2 linked regions of the Homo sapiens genome follow. The protein of the gene in region 1 purifies or fractionates together with the protein of each later gene. This does not show direct contact. Each region holds a gene or a part of one and is shown on either strand. Other genes may lie near its edges.

The links.
Region 2: the proteins of SPATA1 (region 1) and TLK2 purify together in Homo sapiens (affinity purification with mass spectrometry; 2 studies listed by BioGRID and IntAct, with this or other methods). This does not show direct contact.

What each region holds. Positions count from the first base shown.
Region 1 is NC_000001.11:84,558,204-84,562,123, forward strand, and holds part of SPATA1 (spermatogenesis-associated protein 1), read left to right. Parts: intron 1-3,920.
Region 2 is NC_000017.11:62,481,706-62,485,625, forward strand, and holds part of TLK2 (serine/threonine-protein kinase tousled-like 2), read left to right. Parts: intron 1-3,920. UniProt on the Homo sapiens protein: Serine/threonine-protein kinase involved in the process of chromatin assembly and probably also DNA replication, transcription, repair, and chromosome segregation. Phosphorylates the chromatin assembly factors ASF1A and ASF1B.

The sequences.
Region 1 (3,920 bases):
AACTTGATTTAGCCATTTCACAATGTATAGATATATCAAAACATCATCTTCTACACCATAAATACAGATAATTTTTGCCTGCCATTAAACTTTTTTTTTTTTTTGAGACGGAGTCTCGCTCTGTCGCCCAGGCTGGAGTGCAGTGGCGGGATCTCGGCTCACTGCAAGCTCCGCCTCCCGGGTTCACGCCATTCTCCTGCCTCAGCCTCCCAAGTAGCTGGGACTACAGGCGCCCGCCACTACGCCCGGCTAATTTTTTTTGTATTTTTAGTAGAGACGGGGTTTCACCGTTTTAGCCGGGATGGTCTCGATCTCCTGACCTCGTGATCCGCCCGCCTCAGCCTCCCAAAGTGCTGGGATTACAGGCGTGAGCCACCGCGCCCGGCCACTTTTTTTTAATTAAAAAAAAAAAAGAGGCCAAGTGCAGTGGCTCACACCTGTAATCCCAGCATTTTGGGAGGCCAAGGTGGGAGAATCACTTGAGGCCAGGAGTTCAAGACCAGCCTGGGCAATATAGAAAGACCCCGTCTCTACAAAAAGTAAAAAAATCAGCCTGGCATGATGGCACACGCCTATGGTCCTAGCTACTTGGTAGGCTGAGGCAGGAGGATTGCTTGAGCCCAAGAGGTCAAGGCTGCAGTGAGCCATGATTGTGCCACTGCACTCCATCCTGGGTGACAGAGCAAAACCTCGTCTAAAAAAAAAGAAGAATGTGTTCCTGCATTTTCACATTCATTAAGGAAAAAACAAGCCACAGATTACTAAGGTCAGGATTACAAAGAAACAGTATATGGTAGTATATACTGTCCTAAGATTCTATGTTACATATTTTTAAATTACAGGCATACCTCATTTTATTGTACTTTGCTTTATTGTGCTTTGCAGACATTAAATTTTTTGCAAATTGAAGGTTTATGGCAACTCTATTGAACAAGTCTACTGGTGCCATTTTTCCAACAGCAAGTGCTCATTTTGTGTCTGTGTCACATTTTGGCAATTCTTAAAATATTCCAAACTTTTTCATTATTATTATTATATCTGTTATGATGATCTGCAATCAGTGGTCTTTGATGCTACTATTGTAATTGTTTGTGGGCACCATGAACTGCCCATATAAGACTTAATAACAATATTTGGCTAGGCGCGGTAGCTCACGCCTGTAATGCCAACACTTTGGAAGGCCGAGATGGGAGGATCACTTGAAGTCAGGAGTTTCAAACCAGCCTGGCCAACATGGTGAAACCACATCTCTACTAAAAATACAAAAAATTAGCCGGGCATGGTAGGGCATCCCTATAACCCCAGATATTTGGGAGGCTAAGGCACGAGACTCACTTACACCTAGGAGGCAGAGGTTGCAGTGAACTGAGATTGTGCCACTGCACTCCAGCCTGGGTGACGGAGCGATACTCCATCTCAGAAAAAAAAGACTTAATAACGATATTGAAATTAGACTAATAACCTTACAATGGGAATTTTGCAATGAATAAAAAAGAGGAAGAAAATAGTTATAATTAGATTGTTTTCTGAAGTGACATTAAATGGCCTTCAAGGCTCACCAAAATGTTTCCTGAATTCTAAGAGCTTAAACAATGTGTTGGCCAGGTGCAGTGGCCCATGCGTGTAATCCCAGGCCTTTGGGAGGCCAAGGTAGGCGGATCACTTGAGGTCAGGAGTTTGAGACCAGACTGGCCTACATAGTGAAACCCCATCTCTACTAAAAATATAAAAATTAGCCCGGCATAGTGGCGGGCACCTGTAATCCCACCTATGGGGGAAGCTGAGGAGTAGAATTGCTTGAACCCAGGAGGCAGAGGGTGCAGTGAACCCAGAGGGCGCCACTGCACTACAGCCTGGGCGACAGAGCAAGACTCTGTCTCAAAAAAAAAAAAAAAAAGAAAGAAAGAAAGAAAGAAAGAAAGAAAGAAAGGAAAGAAAGAAAGAAAGAGAAACTAGAATCCCTCTTCCCTAAAATGGGTCATAGAAACTAGAGCCTCTTTTCCCCAAAACCAGCCATAAAGTCTAAAAATGTTACTCTAACCTTTCCCACCACCACCTTTCTGTGTAATAGCTGGCCATAAAGAAATTAAGACCCTCATTCCAGAGAGGTCCTACCCCATACCCATGAGAAGAAATCCTTCACAGAGAGGCCAAGAAAAATCTGAACAGACAGTCCTTGCTGAGTTTTCCCACTCAGTCTGTTTGCATTAGCTCATGCCCTTTATTCTGATCACAGTTCTACATAGCTGTCCATACTTCGTTGAACCTAAGCACAAAAATGGACAGTTTTTCCTGTATCTTTGGGTTTTCATTCTGAAACCTCCCATGTCGGGTAAAATTATGATCAAACACATTTTAAAAGGCAGAGACCCCTTTCTTCAAATAAATCTTATATTGGAAGAAGATGATGCCATTTAAGACTTTGCTAGCTAGACAGGAGAAGTCAATACCTGGCTTTAAAGCTCAAAGTACAGGCTGATTCTCTTGTTAGGGACTAATGAGGGTGGTAACTTTAAGTTGAAGCCAGTGTTCATTTACCATTCCAAAAATCCTATGGCACTTAAGAATTATGCTAAATTGACTCTGCCTGTGATCTATAAATGGAATAACAAAGCCTGGCTCACAGCACATCTGTTTACTGAATATCTTAAGCCCACTGCTGAGATGTACTAAGAAAAAAAAGAGATTTCTTTCAAAATATTACTGCTCATTGACAATGCACTTGGTCACCCAAGAGCTCTGATGGAGAACACAAGATGAATGTTATTTTCATGCCTGCTAACACAACATCCATTCTGCAGCCCATGGAACAAGGAGTAATTTCAACTTTTAACTCTTATTAATTAAGAAATAGATTTTGTAAGGCTGTAGCAGCCAAAGACAGTAACTCCTTTCATGGATCTGGCCAAAGTAAACTGAAAGCTTTTTGGAAAGGATTCACCATTCTAGATGCCATTAAGAACATTCATGATTCATGCATGGGAGGAGGTCAAAATATCAACATTAACAGGAGTTTGGAAGAAGTGGGTTACAACCCTCATGGATGACATTGAGGGGTTCAAGACTTCAGTGAAGGAAGTAACTGCAGAGGTAGTGGAAACAGCAAGAGAATTAGAATTGGAGGTGAATCCTAAATATGTGACTCAATTGCTACAATCTCGTGATAAAATTTGAATAGATGAGGAGCTACTTCTTATGAATACGCAAAGAAAGTAGTTTCTTGAGAATGGAATCTATTCCTGGTAAAATGCTGTGAACATTGTTCAAATAACAGCAAAGGATTTAGAATATTCTATAAACTTATTAATAAAGCAGCAGCAGAGTTTGATGGGGTTGACTCCAATTTTGAAAGAAGTTCTACTGTGGGTAAAATGCAATCAAATAGCATCACGTTTTACACAGAAATCTTTCGTGAAAGGAAGAGTCAATTGACGTGGCAAACTTCACTGTTGTCTTATTTTAAGAAATTGCCATAGCCACCCCAACCTTCAGCAACCACCACCCTGATCAGTCAGCAGCCATCAATGACAAGGCAAGACACTCTTCCAGCAAGCAGGTTATAACTTGATAAAGGCTCAGATGATCGTTATCATTTTTTTAGCAATAAAGTATTTTTAAATTAAGGTATGTACTTTTTTTAGACATAATGCTATTACACACTTAACAGACTACAGTATAGTATAAACATAACTTTTATATGCACAGGGAAACAAAAAATTCATGTCACTTGCTTTATTGCTATATTTACTTTATTGTGGTGGTCTAGAACTGACTCTGCAATATCTCTAAGGTATGCCTGTATATGTAATTGGTTACCATAACTTTTAACAAACCATATCCATGAAACAGTTTCTAAGAACTGCATGTTTCTAAGAATGCTGTGAAACAAGATTATATGTCAAACAATTAAACTACCTTAT
Region 2 (3,920 bases), on another chromosome or scaffold:
AGCATAATATTAGATTAGGCCCCCATTAACGGGCACGTATGAAGTTAAGCAATGTTATAGTTTCCTATGCATGTTTATGTACCCACTGGTCCACCCCTCTGCTCTCATAGGATGATTTTACAATGTGTAAAATGTTTGATTTTAATACAGTATGCAAAGTATATTTACGATATTTTATTTAAAAGCTTTATTGGTCCAAGATCATATTACTTGGGCTTGAGATGTGTGAACGTATGAGCTACTGAATTTTTTTTTTTGAGACAGAGTTTTCCTCTTGTCGCCGAGGCTGGAGTGCAATGGCGTGATCTCGGCTCACTGCAGCCTCCACCTCCTGGGTTCAGGTGATGATTCTCCTGCCTCAGCCTCCTGAGTAGCTGGGATTACAGGTGCCCGCCACCACGCCCAGCTGATTTTTGTATTTTTAGTAGAGATGGGGTTTCACCATGTTGGCCAGGCTGGTCTCGAACTCCTGACCTCAGGTGATCCACCTGCCTCAGCCTCCCAAAGTGCTGGGATCACAGGCAGGAGCCACTGTGCCTGGCTGAGCTTTTGATCTTTAACCAGTGTGATACAACATTTGTTTCTGTGCTTTTCAAGAAATCCTGTCTCATGGTAACCTGGGTGTTGATCTCGTGCTTTAGTTAGTAGCTTCTCCAAGGAGAAGGCGTGTTGAGGTTTAGTTGGAAAAATGGGCTTCTTTGATGGGTCTCACAGTTTTGGTGAGCCGGGATAGCTTGATAGGGTTTTGTTTTTTTTTTTTTTGAGTCAGAGCCTTGCTCTGTCACCCAGGCTGGAGTGCAGTGGCACAATCTGGGCTCACTGCAACCTCTGCCTCCTGGGTTCAAGCGATTCTCTTGCCTCAGCATCCTGAGTAGCTGGGATTACAGGCATGCACCACCATGCCTGGTTAATTTTTTTTATTTTTAGTAGAGACAGGGTTTCTCCATGTTGGCCAGGCTGGGTCTCGAACTCCTGACCTCCAGTGATCTGCCTGTCTTGGTGTTCCAAAGTGCTAGGATTACAGGCATGAGCCACCACGCCCAACCAGCTTGATAGTTTTTGTTTATTCAACAAATATTGAGCACCTGCTGTATGCTAGGCATTGTGCAAGGTGTTAGGGCTGATGCTTGAGCACAGTACCTCCACATCTGCAGTATGGGGAGAGAGAGATGATACCGTGATGAGATCTGTATTAGAGCTGTGACAAGGTGCTGTGGGAACACAGGATTTGTTACATATTCTTAATTTCTTTGGCCACTTAAACAGTTTACTTTTGTGGCACTTTAGAGTGGCTGTGCCCCTGGACGTTGTATACTGAAGTTACATTTACAAATGTAAACTCTCTGATCTAGGTGAAGTAGCTTCAAATAGAAGTGAGCAATATATTTGAATACTAAATTGATCTCTAAATGACCTCTGATGTGTCTTTTTAACTTGAAGATTGAGCATAAGGCTAATGTCCAGATCTGTCTGTTTAAATGGTCCCCCCACCCCCGCCTCCCGTAAGTCAGTAAGTTTGTATTCAAATTTTACATAGTTAAGCTCACTGATCTTTGGATTAGGGTTGTTGTTCTGTTTTTAGGTTCGTGATGGCTGTATTCAAGTATACTTTTGATGGAGTAGGGCATAAGTGATAAGAATGAGTGACATTCAACATGTTGCTGTCTAGACCCAACTTAAAGTCATGTAACTAAGGTATCAGAAAACTTTAATACAGTAACCTATCTGTTTAATAGGAAATTCTACCTTTAACATAGAAAGAAGTTCTCTGTACAGAAAAAGAAATTTACCTATTTCCAGTTTTTTTGTTTGTTTTTGAGAGGGTCTCACTCTCTAGCCTAGGCTGGAGTGCAGTGGCACGATCTCGGCTCACCTCAACCTCCATCTCCCAGTCTCAAGCAATTCTCCTGCCTCAGCCTATAGATAGCTGGGATTACAGGCGTGCGCCACTACCACCCTGTTAATTTTTGTATTTTTAGTAGAGATGGGGTTTTACCATGTTGGACAGGTTGGTCTTGAACTCCTGACCTCAAATGATCCACCTGCCTCTGCCTCCCAGAGTGTTGGGATTACAGGCATGAGCCACTGCACCCAGCTTTATTTCCAGTTGTTTTTATTCCATTAGTTGTTTTTTTTTTGAGACAGAGTTTTGCTCTGTCAACCAGGCTGGAGTGCAGTAGCACAATCTCGGCGCACTGCAATCTCTGCCTCCCGGGTTCAAGCTATTCTCCTGCCTCAGCCTCCTGAGTAGCTGGGACTATAGGCACCTGCTACCATGCCCAGCTAATTTTTGTATTTTTAGTAGATGGGGTTTCACCATATTGGCCAGGCTGATCTCGAACTCCCGACCTTGTGATGTGCCTGCCTCGGCCTCCCAAAGTGCTGGGATTATAGGTGTGAGCCACTGTGCCCAGCTTAAGTAGTCGTATGTTACTTTGATATTTCCAGTCACGGTAAGTATATTGATTACAATGAATTTGTTATTTGAGGACTAGCAGGAGAGTATTTTTTTTTTCCATAACAAAGAAACTTGAAGAAAAAAATTAATTCTGTAGTTTGCAGAGCCGGGAAAAGAAAATCTCCATTTCGTATGACTTCTTTTTTTTTTGAGACAGAGATTCACTCTTGTTGCCCAGGCTGGAGTGCAGTGGCGCGATCTCAGCTCACTGCAACCTCCGCTTCCTGGGTTCAAGCAATTCTCGTGCCTCAGCCTCCCGAGTAGCTGGGATTACAGGCACGTGCCACCATACCCGGCTAATTTTTTGTATTTTTAGTAGAGATGGAGTTTCACCGTGTTGGCCAGGCTGGTCTCGAAATCCTGACCTCAGGTGATCCACCCGCCTCAGCCTCCCGAAGTGCTGGGATTATAGGTGTGAGCCATCGCGCCCAGCCTTTGTATTACTTCTTTTACCAGTAAGACATCGTACCTCTCAGACTATTGATTTGAAATGGGGGTGTGGAGGGGATGATGATACTGGGAGAAAAGGGTGCTTTTGGAAAAACTCCTCTCCCTGGCTTTGAATTCTCATTTTGGATCATTATTTCCCAATAAGAATATCACTGTGTTAGGGCCAGGCACGGTGGCTCACGCCTGTAATCCCAGCACTTTGGGAGGCTAAAGCAGGCAGATCACGAGGTCAGGAGATCGAGACCATCCTGGCTAACACGGTGAAACCCCATCTCTATTAAAAAATACAAAAAATTAGCTGAGCTTGGTGGTGGGTGCCTGTAATCCCAGCTACCTGGGAGGCTGAGGCAGGAGAATGGCTGAGCCCGGGAGGCGGGGCTTGCAGTGAGCCTGGGCGACAGAGCAAGGCTCCGTCTCAAAAAACAAAACAAAACAAAAAAAGAATATCACTGTGTTGATGACAGCTTTGTTTTTCAAAGATCAAAAAAGATTTCAGCCCCTGCAGCTCCAAATAAGAGAGCAGAGTGACTTCCCTGTGATGGTGCCATCTAGTGGGACTGGTTCAGCCTCTTGGGCTGTCTCTTGAATTTCTCCTAACTATTCATAACATTTTTCAGTACTTTTTGATGTCCATAGAAGGAAGAAAGTCAGTGCCACTGTGGATTCTTTCCTAGTGGACAAGAGTGTTACAAGTAGCTACAGCCTTTGAACTTTCTGGTTGTTGTAAATCTTCTGTTGTATAACTTTCGAGTTTTTTCCACCTGCAAATTAGATATACACTCCATTACTTAGACTAAAACAAAATGGCCAAATCTCCACATCTATTACTTATATTTAAGTTGCTCATTACCTATATTTAGGTTTTTAATTTTTTATTTCTAATTTTCTTGCATAGTGCAAATTTTTAATTTTCTTGCATAGTGTGTTTATAGGTAGGTACTCAGTTTCTCAGCATATTTACTTCATAATAATGGTAAAACAAAAGTCATTTATTTTGGGCTTTGGGATGCAC